Linked DNA regions of Homo sapiens. The protein of the gene in region 2 interacts with the protein of the main gene of each other region in a pairwise test. Each region holds a gene or a part of one and is shown on either strand. Other genes may lie near its edges. The genes, in order: LYST and CELF4.

Region 1 (8,007 bases), on a different chromosome or scaffold from region 2:
AGGTACTCTGAAATTCCAGACTATATGGCTCTCTCTACAACCGAAGCTAACAAACACACTATGTGAGTGCAATCAAACAAAAATAAAACTACAATTGGGAAAAGAATGACTAGGTTGGTCCAAAAGAATTAAGAAGAAAATAATCATGAAATCAAAGCTGGCAGTTTATGGGTGAAATTTTTAACCCCCTGGTATAGTCAAGGTAACGTAAAAAGTGTCTTCAAAACAAAGTCACTTGTGTTTACTACTAATAATCTCAGCTTTGACAAAAATTCTTTGCTTGGCCAAACTTACTCAGGCTTTTGAATTTTCTGTGAGGCCCATCTGTGCACTTCCTTGTAAAATCCAGTATTAGCAAAGAACCCTGCTAAGTCTGTTTAGCATAACATCCTGGATATCTAATCATCCTAAATATCTGATCAGGTTCCTCATCCTCCACCATTCCCCAGGTAATGTCTGATCGCCCTGGCCTGTCTTCAGCAAGAATCCCGTTAGGTCGGCTTAGCCAGAATCCCCCTTATCCCTGATGTTTCCTTTTAGCAATTTTCCATCCACGATCCCCACACTGCTGCTTGGCTATAAATTCCCATTTTCTCATGCTGTATTCGGAGTTGAGCCCAGTCTCCCTCCCCTACTGCAGGGCCCCACTGCAGAGGTCTCTATACCTATTGAGATGGTTCTGAATAAAGCCTTACTTACCATTCTTAAACAAGTATCATTGAATATTTTTTTCTTTAAAAACGTGAATGTCTAATTTTATTGTCTTCTAACCAACTCCCACCCTTCTCCCCACCAAACCTACTCCTCTCGTAAACCTAATCTCAGTAAACAAGTACCCCATCTTTCTACTTGTTCGGAACTAAATTTTGGTGTCTTTTACATCTCTACCCTCAATTTATCCTGAAATCAATGACCTCTCACCACCTCCACCAATTCCACTCTGGTCCAAGCTACATTATCTCTGGCCTGGATTAGGGCAACAGTTCCGGATTGGTATCCCAGCTTCTGCTCCTGCTCAACCCTTCCCCTACAACAAAGTCTATTCTCCATCCAGCGCCCAGAATGATCATTTTTAAAAGGCAAGCCTGGGGCCGAGCGCAGTGGCTCACGCCTACAATCGCAGAATGTTGACACGCCAAGGTGGATGGATCGCTTGAGCCCAGGAGTTTGAGACCAGCCTGGGCAACAATGGCGAAACCCCATCTTTACAAAAAATTAGCCAAGCATGGTGGGTGATGTGTGCCTGAAGTCCCAATTACTTCAGAGGCTGAGGTGAGAGGATCACCTGAGCCTGGGAAGTCGAGGCTGCAGTAGGTTGTGATCATGCCACTGCACTCCAGCCTGGGAGACAAAGTGAGATCCTGACTCAAAACTAAAAATAAAAGGTAAGGTTCTTTACTCAAAGAGTGGACTCCCCTTTCCACTGAGAGTAGAAACTCAAGTCCTTAAAAGGGCCTACAAGGCCTTATACAGTCTAATCTCCCACCACACTCACCTCTTTGACTTTATTTCTACTCCTCTTTGCTTTTTCCACCACAGCCAAATCAGCCTCTCTGCTGTCCTCAAACAAGCCCAGCACACAGGGCTTCTGCAAGCCCTTCTGCCTTCCTCTCTGCTAGCACATCCTTCCCTCAGAGAGGTACATGGATTACCCCTCACTTACTTCTGGTCTTGGCTCAAATGATATCTTTTCTAGGAAGCTTTCCCTGGCTGCCTCTAGTTAAAATTGCAAACCTCTCCCGGTTCCCTGCCCTCCCTCTTCCCTGCCCTCCCTCTTCCGTGCTTTTTCTCTGTAGTACTTAACACCATCTGACACAGCACATATTTTATTTGTTTATTATCTGAGGTCCCCACTAGAATATAAGCTCCATGAAGGAGCAGATATTTATGTTTTCTTAGAAAAGTATCTGACACGCAGTAGGTGCTCAATAAATATTTACTAAATACATATATATAATTATATAGTTTGTGAAGTATTTTTATGCAAATTACAGCAATTCATTTTTCCTTATGCCCTCTCTTCTTCAAATTCTCCAATCTTTGTAGTAACAATATGGATGACAGCAAAGAGCTATCAGAAAAAGAGTTGTTGGCCACTTAACAAAGCTCTTTAAAACAGATACCCCATATTAATCAACTACATCTATAAATTGAAAGCTTAAAGTCAACATCTTTATTAGCATAGATGAATCTAGGCGTGGAATTTTAAAATAATAGCGCAGAAGAGCCAAGAATCATCAGGAAGAAAAGTCTAATTCAGTTTGTCCTATCAATCTGTTAAACAAACAATAGGAAAATGCAACCTGCATTTGATCTTCAAGGAAACACTGGCCCAAATTCAACACGAACGCATTCAACACAAGATTCGACTCCCTTAAAATTTTCTATCTGCTTAAAACAAACCCCATTAACTATCAAGTGCCGTCGCTGGGTGTGTATGGTCTGCCGAGCGGATCGGGGATGTTTTGCTATGTTTTGTTTAACCAGATAAGAATTAGCGTTAAGGAAACGTTTCTTAAAGCCTCTGTATCCCCTGGACCATTAAACAACCCCTTCGTTGGGCTTTACACTGTGGTACCGGGGTCTTCTCGGGTAATTTCCCAGCTTATTTAACTCATCAGAAGCGAAGGGGCATCTCAGTCAGGCTCCAGTGATACCGGAGACAGACGGCAGATGTCTCAGGGGATCCCCTGGAAAGAGAGGCTCTCGCCCAGTCAAAGGGTGTCACGGACAGGAGGAAAGAGCGGACCGAGGCGCACGGTGTAGGTGACAGGTGGGCGAGCGCCGCAGGGCAACAGCGCGGGGAGTGACCGGCTGGGTGGTGGCGCGGAAACCGTCAACTCCCATCGTCAACCTGACAGCTTGGGCCCAGCTGGGCTGAGTAGTGCAGCGGCACAGGATCAAAAAATAAAATAAAGGTAGCAACACACCGCCGTCAGCCTGCTCGACCTCGCCCCCCGCGCGCTGCGAAATAAAGTTAGTGCCCAGTGGCCGCTGCAATGGCCCAGAGGGGCCCAGCCGAGCTCCCGCCCGCGGCCCGGCGGCTGTCAAAGGCGGCCCGGCGCCGCGAGAAGTCCCAGAGCCCAGAAGCCAGAGAGGACGCCCCGAGCTGGCGCGTCAGGCCGAGTGCCCTCGCGCCCTCGCGCCCTCAGCCCGGCGGTCCCGGCCCTCAACCCAGGCTGACAGCCACCAGCCCCAAACCGCCTCCCCTCCAGGCCACGCAGAGGGGCCGGGACCCGGAACCTTCTGCCGGCAGCGTCGGCGCCCGGCGGCCGCCTTTACCTGGTTTGTGGCAGCTGCGGCCGCCGCGCACTCCCCCTCTCCCGGAGAACCCCGAGCCGACGCCGCTGCCGCCGCCGCCGCGCACTCCCCACCCCCGCCCGCCCAGGTAACCCAGGAAACCGAGAACACCACCCCCTCCCTCCCCTCGTCCGGACCCAGACCCGCTCGTCTGCGCGTGCGCCCTTGGCTCCGCCTCGCGCGTGTAAGCCCCGCCTCCTCTGGGAGGGCAGCGCCGGCGTCGCAGGCGTGACGCGTGGAACTGCCGAGCCAATAGGGAAGGCAGGGGGGCGGGCCGACCCGCGGGGCTGCAGCCGGGGCCCGGTCTGGGTTTCTCAGCGGTCGGGGGTCGTACCCTGGGTCCGCACCTCCTCCCAGGGCTCTGCGTAGTGGGCTGCGTCAGACCCTGGGGAGTGCGAGCACCGTTTGAGAAGCACCAAACACAAGCGCATCGTCCGCCTCTTCCATTCAACACAGACTGTCAACCTGTCCCATTGTGTAGGTCTAGAGGATGAAGATAGAAGAAATAACGGGAAGGAGTCAGGAGAGGGAGAAAGGGTTACCCACAAGGCACCCCTAGCCTTCCTCTGGGACCTGGAAAAAGCCATATTGTAATGGTTACCGTCGGCTTCTTTCAAGAAACAAAAAGAGCTTTGCAAAGCCACTGCAGAAGTAATTCAGTGCAGTGGTGTATTTTCCAACCGACTCCTGTTCAAACACGGTTTGTATACAGTGCGCACTGTCAGTGTCATATGCCCTAATAGACCAGTCCCTCCAGAGGGTGGGAGCTGTAGGTAAAATCCAGGATGTTTTGGCTGCATCCCCGGCTCTGGGCCCAGCACGCTGCTGGCAGACTGCTGCGGTAGGCAGTTTGGCATTTCAAGGGCCACCCTCCTCACCTCCTAGTCACTGAGACAGCAACGCCAGAGGTACTGGGAAAAAGCCTGAACTGTAATCGTTCGGTAGTTTTCAAGTTCTGCCAAACAATACAAACTATTAATAAGCAGATAATCTACAAATTGACAGGAATTGCTGTAGAATCAACAACTCCCATAATTTTTTGCACAGGAATTATGAAATAGAAATAATTCAGGATATTATGTCCCAAGCCTATATACCAAATGTTACTCCCAATTCCTCAAACTCCCATCTAACCCAATGACAAGCAAAGTGCGTTAAGTTGCCCACTGATGTGGTTTAGAGGGTGCTCTTGGGGAAAATTCCCCACTTTAAAATATGTCTTCTCTGACGTCTGATGTTTAACCATTAGCAGTTCATATCTTTAGGCGAAGATTGCCCACTTCCTCTGGCAGGTAGTCTTTTATTTTTATTTTTTATCTTTTTTTTTTTGAGACAGATTCTCGCTCTGTCGCCCAGGCTGGAGGGCAGTGGCCGGATATCGGCTCACTGAACCCTAACAAGTGCAGGAAATAAATGTCTCAGGGAACTTATCACTCATTTAAGCAGTATATAATGAGCACCTACAATGCGCTAAGTATTGTGCTAGGTGCATGGGCCTGAACTGAAACAAAAAGAGGAAGCCAAACTTAACCTGTTTCGTCATTTTACCTAAAGCTGTGTCTACTCTTATTTATACATCAACTTTCACCCACTAATCTTAAAAACACCCCCCTTTTTTAATGGACAAAAGAAGTCAAAGAAATATTAAGTAACAAGCCAGTTTCTGTTAACCTTGAGTAGAAAATAATAGATTATCATGATTTCATTAAAGCAAAGAAAATGAGACAGACTTTAGATGATAATGGTATACAATTGGCCCTCAAAGTATTATTTGTTTGTAAAAGGCACAAAGTAATGCCATTTGTGACTATTATTTTTTTCGGTACCAGTGTTTTTTATTTTATTTTATTTTCAAGATGCAGCTTCACTCTTTTTCCCTGACTGGAGTGCAGTGGCACAGTCTCGGCTCACTGCAACCTCCGCCTCCCGGGTTCAAGTGATTCTCCTGCCTCAGCCTCCCAAGTAGCTGGGATTACAGGAATGTGCTACCATGCCCGGCTAATTTTGTATTTTTAGTAGAGACAGAGTTTCATCATGTTGGTCAGGCTGGTCTCGAACTCCTGACCTCAGGTGATCCACCCACCTCTACCTCCCAAAGTGCTGGGATTACAGGCATGAGACACCGCTCCTGGCCTCGGTTCCAGTATTTTAACTAAGCTACTGCAGTATGTATTTTATTCAATAGTATCTTAGAACATCGATACTAAATATACATATCAAATAAAACTTAGTTTAAAAGATTTCCTAGGAACACACACAAAATGTGTAGTGAAGAACATGAAAAAGAAGAAAAAAGTAAAGTAATAGGTATATAGAAGAAAGCTCTACTTGGCCGGGCGCAGTGGCTCACGCCTGTAATCCCAGCACTTTGGGAGGCCGAGGCGGGCAGATCACGAGGTCAGGAGATGGAGACCATCCTGGCTAACACGGTGAAACCCCGTCTCTACTAAAAATACAAAAAATTAGCCGGGCGCGGTGGCGGACGCCTGTAGTCTCAGCTAATCGAGAGGCTGAGGCAGGAGAATAGCGTGAACCCGGGAGGCGGAGCTTGCAGTGAGCTGAGATAGCGCCACTACAGTCTGGCCCGGGTGAAAGAGCGAGACTCCGTCTCAAAAAAAAAAATAATAATTAAAAAAGCTCTACTTACGCATGTATCACATGCTGGAAAACTTTTTAAGCAGGAAAGTCTTCAGCTAATTTGACTCCAGAATTATAATCTTCAATGAGATTGTAACATCCCAGCTTAAAACAACACAGTCAACGTAAATGTGCATAATTTCACATTTAATTATTCTCCAAAACACCTTTAAAAATTATTTGTGACTAAATGGATATATAAATCAAATCATGTCACATCTCTGCTCAAAAATCTGCATTGGCTCTCCGCTTCTCTCAGATAAAAGCCAAAGTCCTTACAATTGGCCTACAGAGCTCTAACACCATCTGGCTCCTCAAAACTTCGTCTCTTTCTACTCTCCCATCACTACCTACATACCTGCTTCTTTACTGTTTACCAAACATGCCAGATACAGTCCTGCTTTAAGGGCTTTGCACTGACTGGCCGGCCCCTCTGCTTGAAATTTGTTTTCTCCACATGGCTGCAGTTGTTAACTCCTTTATCTCCTCCACGTCTTTGCTCAAATTTCACCTCTCAATGAGGTCTACCCTTAATACTGCCCTTAAACTAGGCAAGAGGGGCCTCTGCCCTGGACCCCACACATGAATGGACCTCATCTCACAAATGTTCCCTAAAACAATAGTATTAAAAAACATGTATGTTCTCTGTCCCTTCTTGGGGGGTGTGGGGAGGTGGGTGGCATTGGTGAGAGTTGACACAGTTGTTAAATCAAGTTTAGCCTAAAGCTGCCTCCTTGCATATTTTAAGTTCAGCCTAAAGGTTTTTCTGTACATCATGAGCTATAACAAATGAAGGTGTAAACAGGCCATAGCCCACACCTGTGTCAATCCCTGAGTTTTGGCCAATCAAATGTAGCCAACTGTTTGAACTGTGTTCTAATAAAGCAAACGCTGAGCTGCAACCAACCCAGTTGTTTCTGTACCTCACTTCCATTTTCTGTATGTCACTTTCCTTTTGCTGTCCATAAATCTCCCACCGTGTGGCTGCGCGGGAGTCTCTGAGCCTACCTTGGCTCAGAAGGCTGCCTGATTCACGAATTGTTTTGTGCTCAATTAAACTTTAAATTTAATTTGGCTGAAGTGTTTCTTTTATCACAGTGTAACCTGTAACTCTAAACATCATCTCTTTCATAGCACCCATCAGCTTCTAACATACTACATAATTTGTCTATTTCTTATGTTTATTTTCATTGTCACCCCTGTTTAGACTATGGGCTCCACAAGGGCCACAATCTTTGTTCTATTTCTGATGTATCCCAAGGACCAGAACAGTGCCTGGCACTTAGTAGGCACTCAGTAAATATTTGGATAAATAGTTAAATTAAGAAAATTTTGTTGAAAATTCAAATAAATATCCAAACAGTAAGTTGACCATAATTTTGGAGCTGGACAATCTTAATGCCTACTGCAATGCATGGGAACAGAAATGGATTTGTGAAGTGGTAGAGGAATACAAGACTGCGATTTCAGCAATAGTAAGAAGGTCAGAATTATACAGATGAATAAAATTATGCATTTGACTAAAGACCTGCATCAATTTAATTTTGAGTGTCACTTTAATTTTGAAGTGCTTTACCTTATTAGGATGCATATACATCTTTTACAATTGTGCGTCTTGGTAGCCACCTTGAAACTTTATTGAAGAGGTCAATTCATAATTAATGTCTTCATTAAGTTGTTACCAACATCCATTTCATTTTGCAAAAGTTATCAGATTTGGTTTTAGTATGATTCTTTCATGTAATTTTCTCTACTAAATCACCAATAGCATTTGAAATCCCCAAAAGTATTGTCAGAGGCGTCCTAACTAGAGCGATTCCATCTTGAATAAAGGCCGGATAAAAGCAAACCTGCTGTGTTACATTCCCGAGGGGTTGGGCACTGTTGGTCACAAGACATTTATGGTTGAGGGAATGAGTTAATGATGCTAATAACTAATTAAAGACCCAGAATTTATGGAAATGTCCTAGTACTTTAAGAACAAAAAGCATTCTTAGTTTAAGACTAGGTTTTGCTTTAAAGATCATATAATATACTCATTAATTCTTGCTGAAATCAATAGTAACATAG
Region 2 (5,615 bases):
CCAGGACTGGGTGAAGGCATGCAGCTGGTGTGCAGCTGTCTGGGCTCTCCTCTCCAGAGGCCTGCCGCCCCTCTCCAAGTCCTGCGTGGTGTTCTTCCTCCTTCGGAATGCTTTTCCCTCCCACCCTGGCATTCAGGGTCTGGACACCTCTCTCCAGCTCGTATCTAAGTGTAGGACAGGCAGCATGCCAGGAAACGCCCCAGGGGAGGGCCCCTACTCTTCTTTCTACATCCTTGCCCCCACCAGGACCCTGACTGAGGGCCCAGAATCCTGTTTTCTCCATCCCTGCAAACTGCCAAAGCAGCGGGAGGTGTGGGGCCAAGAGCAAGATGCTTGCTGGTAAATTTGGAGTTGCATCCTCATCCTTCTTCCTTTATTGTGGCCTCTTCCCTCCACTGCCTCCTTCCCTAAGGTGTCACATAACTTCCCCCCCCAACCCAACACTTGCTCGGCCTTCAGGTCGGGTGGCCTAGGTAGCCTCCTTTCTGTTCTGCTTGGACACTGTGGCCACCTCTGCCAGGAACCCAGAAGAATGAATTTGCAGTGGGGACTTTCAGAGACACACACCAGTCCAGAGAGATTCTTCCTAGAGTGGAACAGGACCTCCTTTTATTGTTCCCATCACCTCCCAGAAGAGCCTCACATGCTGAGGCTCAGAACGAGGGCCTGTGTGGCAGATTCCATAAAGAGGACCAAAGCTACTTCCAGTGGGCAAGCCTTGGGGCTGTGAGGCACAGCTGGCCAGAGTCCGAGAGGCACAGACCAATGAAGAAATATTTTTTTAAACTGTGCTTTATTTAGGGCTAAGCTGGAGAAAGCGTCATCCAATAGTTACAGAAGGTTACAAGGAGTTTTAGGGAGTTGAGTGTGAAAAGAGCAGTTGTACTGAACTGCAGCTGTTTTCTTTTTTTTTTCTTTTTTTCTTTTTTTTTTTTTTTTTTTTACATCTGGACATCCTAAAAGGAGGAGTCAAGAGAAAAAAAGAAAATGAAAAACAACAACAACAACAAAATTGACAGAAAGAAAGGAAAGGCAGGAGGCCCTAGAGGAACTGGAAATTTGTTCTTCTAAAGGGAAACTGGTAGGTCTGAGAACCCCCGGCCTCCAGATGACCTGGACATCAATGAGAAGGAATCAAGGCAGAATGCCAAAGCAATCTTCCCAAGGGTGCAAATAAATTATAATAAATATGTTATACTTTAAAATATATGTGTTCTTAAATAATTCAGTGTTTTTTCTGATTCTGAGTTTTTTAAGCAATGTCTTTAACTGCTCTAAAGTCATTTACCAAAGATAAATATCGTGCTTTCATTAAATAGTTTTCCTTGTTTTTTTCTCTATCATTACAATTAAAAGTCCTACAAAATATGCAAATTTATTTACAGAAAAACAGAGCCGGCATCATTTAAACATCCCTGTTTTTCAAAATTCCTTGTAAACAGTTTCAGAAATTCTTCAAAGATTGTTTATTTTTCTCTCTCTTTTTTAAGGTTTTGTGTGTGTGTGTGTTGTCTAGTTGTTTTAAGATGAAAGTTCCCAGTTCTCCCTTGCCCGGAAAGTCTCTGGAGCAAGCGTGGAAGGCGAGTGAAGCGGAAGGTGAGTGAAGCGCGCGCAGCTCCCAGAGGGAAGCGAGAGGCGAGGATGACGGCGGCGGCGGCGGCGGCGACCCGGGCGACGCGACCGTTCCCGACCGACGGCGTGGCCTCCACCGGCGTCGGCAGCCAGGCGCCCGCAGGTGTGGGGCGAGTTCGGCCTGGCCCTTGGGGACAACGGCATCCGACTGCACTCGCGGGGAGAAGGGATTGATGCTCTGTCTAAACTCTACAAAAGTACAGTCCTACAACATCTGGGATTTTAGCAGTAATGCTAACTTCTATAGGTTTTTTTTTTCCTTTTTTATTTTTTTTTTTTATTTTTTGCTTTCCTCTAATTTTTCTTCTATTATATAGGTATTTTAAACTTTTCCTTTTTAAAATTCTGTACAACTATTATGATTTTAAGAGGGGGAAGAGTTAGAAGCATTTACAGACTTTTCACAACAATGACCTTGCTTGGTAAGTCCCATTTGTTCCCCTCCTTGTTTTCTCACACTTCACGGGTGAGTTTTAAGATTTGTGTTGCTTTCCCCAAATATCCACCAATTTGTTCATCTTTTAACAGCTCCATCCAGACATAGAATACAGAAAACCATAGGAAAGTGTCATAGACTTGGATGAGGGTCATCAAAGCGCCTCTCAAAGTATCAAAGAACTATTATCTTGCTGTTTTAAAAGCATTGAAGCGTTATTTTTCCTTTTTTTGTTGTTTTTTTTGTTTTTTGTTTTTTTTTTAATTTTTTATTACATTTTTTCATAGAATCGCTCTAAGCTGTTTCAAGAACAGCCATGAGGCAGGAAGGAGGGGGTCCTCCATTCCCCCTCTATTTGACATAGAGCTACACATCTGCAATAAAAAGTTTGGTCCTTTGGTCCCTAAATAGCTAAAGGAATGACAGATAGAGATGCTCAGTGGCGGCCTCTCAGCCGCCCCTTGGGGACCAGGCCCCACGCACCACTTGCCCCAGCCTGCGTCAGGCGCCCGTGGGCTGGAAAAGCCCCGGGATCGGTAAGCAGCGTCTCCTCCCAGCTCCCAGCCCTTCAGCCTCCCCGTCTGCTCGTGATATTTTGTTTTAAAGTTGCCTTTTGTGTGTTTTTTTCTCATTTTTCTTCATCTTCTTCTTCATGTCATATATATTTTCCCCCAAACACGTGCCCTCTGAACTCCATAGACGCTATACTTTCCTTGAAGAAATGTTACAGTCACACAGACAGTGTCTGGAGTCTTCAGCTTGATTGATATTGGCTGATATGTCAAAGGTGTCATCCAACAGTTCTCATTTATAAATATATATAGAGAGAGGTTTGTTTTTTAATGTAGCCCGTTCAGCATCCTGCCCTAAAATGAAGAAAATCAGGGCTGATTAAGCCAAGAGGGAAAACACAAACAGCATCCAAACACCAATAGGAACCTGCCTCAGGGGCTAGGATGGGAGCTCTAGGGGATGGTGGGAGGGAAGGAAGAGAGACCAGTATGAGAATTAGTCATGATCATGATACATTAAAAAGAAATATACTCTTCTATTCAGAGTAGAAACCACTGGGAGGTCTAGTGGTGATGGTTGTAGCTGAGGTTTCGTTGTTGGGAGAAGGTTCTTGATTTGGGTTACTTTAGCATTCTGGATTGGGGGTAGCTACATCTAAGGGGAGAATTTGGGACTGCGGGATATGAATTCATAATTAAACTTGTCTCTGAGGGATCTAGCCCAGATACAATATGTATACAGAAGCCTAGCAAACAAGATAGGAAAAATCTAGCAGCCCAGCCCACTCCTCCCAGCTCAAGGGAAAGAAGGAAGACACATCCGTGACTCAAATTTTGTAGAATCCTTGCCCAGCTTCCAGCCAACCACTTCTTTCCCGGGGTCAGTAACTATTTGCGAGGCTGTGTATATATATGTATATCTGGATATATGTGTAGAATATATTCACCTGCACATATGTGGATATACATGGATATGTGTGTATGTATATGCATATATACACACATACACACACATAATACTTTTCTCATACATGCCAGGGAATTTAGAGGAATTCAGAACTTCAAGGGAGTGGATGGGAAAACCTAAAAAAGGTCAGAAGAGATTTAATTATCAAACTTAAATAAATTAACTCAGACAGTGCTTGATTTTGTTTTGAATGGTGGCTTTTTGGTGTTTTGTTTTGCTTTAAAAAAATCATGATCTGACTAGAATCAGAAGGCGAATGCTTAATCATTGTGAATTAACAAATGAGACTCATCTCCATTCTAGCAAGCAGCTTCCACTTATACATGGGGGTGACTGGTTACATCAAGAAAGTTAGAACTGCAAAGCCCCCACTTGAGGGGACAACGTCATGCGTATATCAATCCATGCTGGCAGGTTTTTCACACTGTTGATTCAACAAACAGCAAACCGTACACAGCAGTCTAAACAATTACAACACCAAATAAAATAATAATAAAATTAAAAAACACTTGTCAAGGACCCTTTTTCAGTTGTAAACAAAAAGGTGCATTTTGCTTTTGTTAGTACTGTTTCTTCCAAACCAACCAAAAAAAACCCTCCCGAGCCCCCAGTCCCCAGCCTCCCCTCCCCACATTTAATTTAGCAGAAGTGGTTACAATACAAACCTTACAATTGTTACCGGGCTCTCTTGCAGAGGCCTCTGGCTTTGTACTCTAGTTTTTTGGTTTAGAATTTTTTTATCATTCTGTTACTGTAGATATTTTGTTTTTGTTTTTTTGTTTTTGTTTTTTTTCCCTTTGAAGTGAGATTGAAAATAGCCTAACTGGAAAAAGACCAGACCTAGGAAAGTGTCAATTGAAAAAGGCCCCCAAATTTCTAGAAAAAAATAAAATCACAATATTTTCAAGTGCAAGTAAATCAACCACGCATAGATATTTTTAAGATGTTTTCCTTATTTTTAAGAAAAAAATAATGGTTTGCACAGGTAAATGATCCCATGTTTGATAATTCAGGAATTCATCTTTATTTTGACTATTTTTTGTTCTTTTGTTTTGTTTTTTTCTCTATGTGACATCTAGAGAAGCATAAAAAAACGCTGAACAAGAAAAACCAAACAACAGAAAGTAAAACCACTGCAAGCACCAAGAACGAAACGAAAATGAGCACAGCAAAAAAGATTGTGGCAGCACAAAAGTCAAGAAAATGCACGTGTGATCATGACTGGCCAATCATCAACTGATACAACATCCAAGAAAAACGCTCCAATCACAGCACCTCCACGAAACTTGACGGCAATTGTCATGCAACCGATTCTTAGCCTTGTTACATGACGCCATCATGTCACACTGTGAACTTTGAGTTGATTTGAACTTACGGATGGGGGACTTTTCTCCACTCTCATGTGATTACGTGAACTTTATTCCTAGCTCAGCGCGAGACTGTGGTGGATTTGACTGGCCCTGGTTGGGTTGTTGGAATTTGATTGAATGACAAAAGAAGAAAAGATTTATATATATATTTATATATGTAGAGAGAGAGAGAGAGAGGACAAGAGAGTGTGGGTGGGGGAAGGAAGAGGTGGGGCAGGGCAGGTGGGGTTGGGGAGTGTGGGAGGGCAGGGAGGGCTGGGATTTGGGTGAAGGAGGGCAAGGAAGAAGTTAAAACAAAATTAAAAAGAAAATATATTTATACAGCACCAGACCACAGCATCAATCTAGAAGCTCTGATGAGAGAACAGCAGTCAAATCATAAGAGAACTGAAAAGAACTCAAAGGATGGAGGAAGCCAGCAGACAAACATGGGCACATCAACACACACACACGCACACACACACGCACGCACACACATACACACATACACACACACGGTTGTTTATGCAGACACATGATACACTGTGAACAGAAGCAGAACCTCACACAGGGCCACTAAGGGCATCCATCATGCGTTGGGGAGGGGGGCATGGGCGGTTTGGCAAGGGGGCCAGAAAAAAAATAAAACAGCCCCTCAAACCACCTTGGCCAGCAAGCAATCTCAGGGAGCAGGCGCTCTGCTTTTCATCACCCTTGAT

Evidence for each region.
Region 1: the proteins of CELF4 (region 2) and LYST interact in a two-hybrid assay, tested with the Homo sapiens proteins (one study listed by BioGRID).

What each region holds. Positions count from the first base shown.
Region 1 is NC_000001.11:235,863,561-235,871,567, forward strand, and holds the start of LYST (lysosomal-trafficking regulator), read right to left. Parts: upstream 3,347-8,007; 5' UTR 3,283-3,346; exon of another isoform or gene 1,496-3,282; intron 1-1,495. UniProt on the Homo sapiens protein: Adapter protein that regulates and/or fission of intracellular vesicles such as lysosomes. Might regulate trafficking of effectors involved in exocytosis.
Region 2 is NC_000018.10:37,242,264-37,247,878, forward strand, and holds the end of CELF4 (CUGBP Elav-like family member 4), read right to left. Parts: intron 5,008-5,615; coding exon of another isoform or gene 4,954-5,007; exon of another isoform or gene 2,935-4,953; coding exon of another isoform or gene 2,908-2,934; 3' UTR 777-2,907; downstream 1-776. UniProt on the Homo sapiens protein: RNA-binding protein implicated in the regulation of pre-mRNA alternative splicing. Mediates exon inclusion and/or exclusion in pre-mRNA that are subject to tissue-specific and developmentally regulated alternative splicing.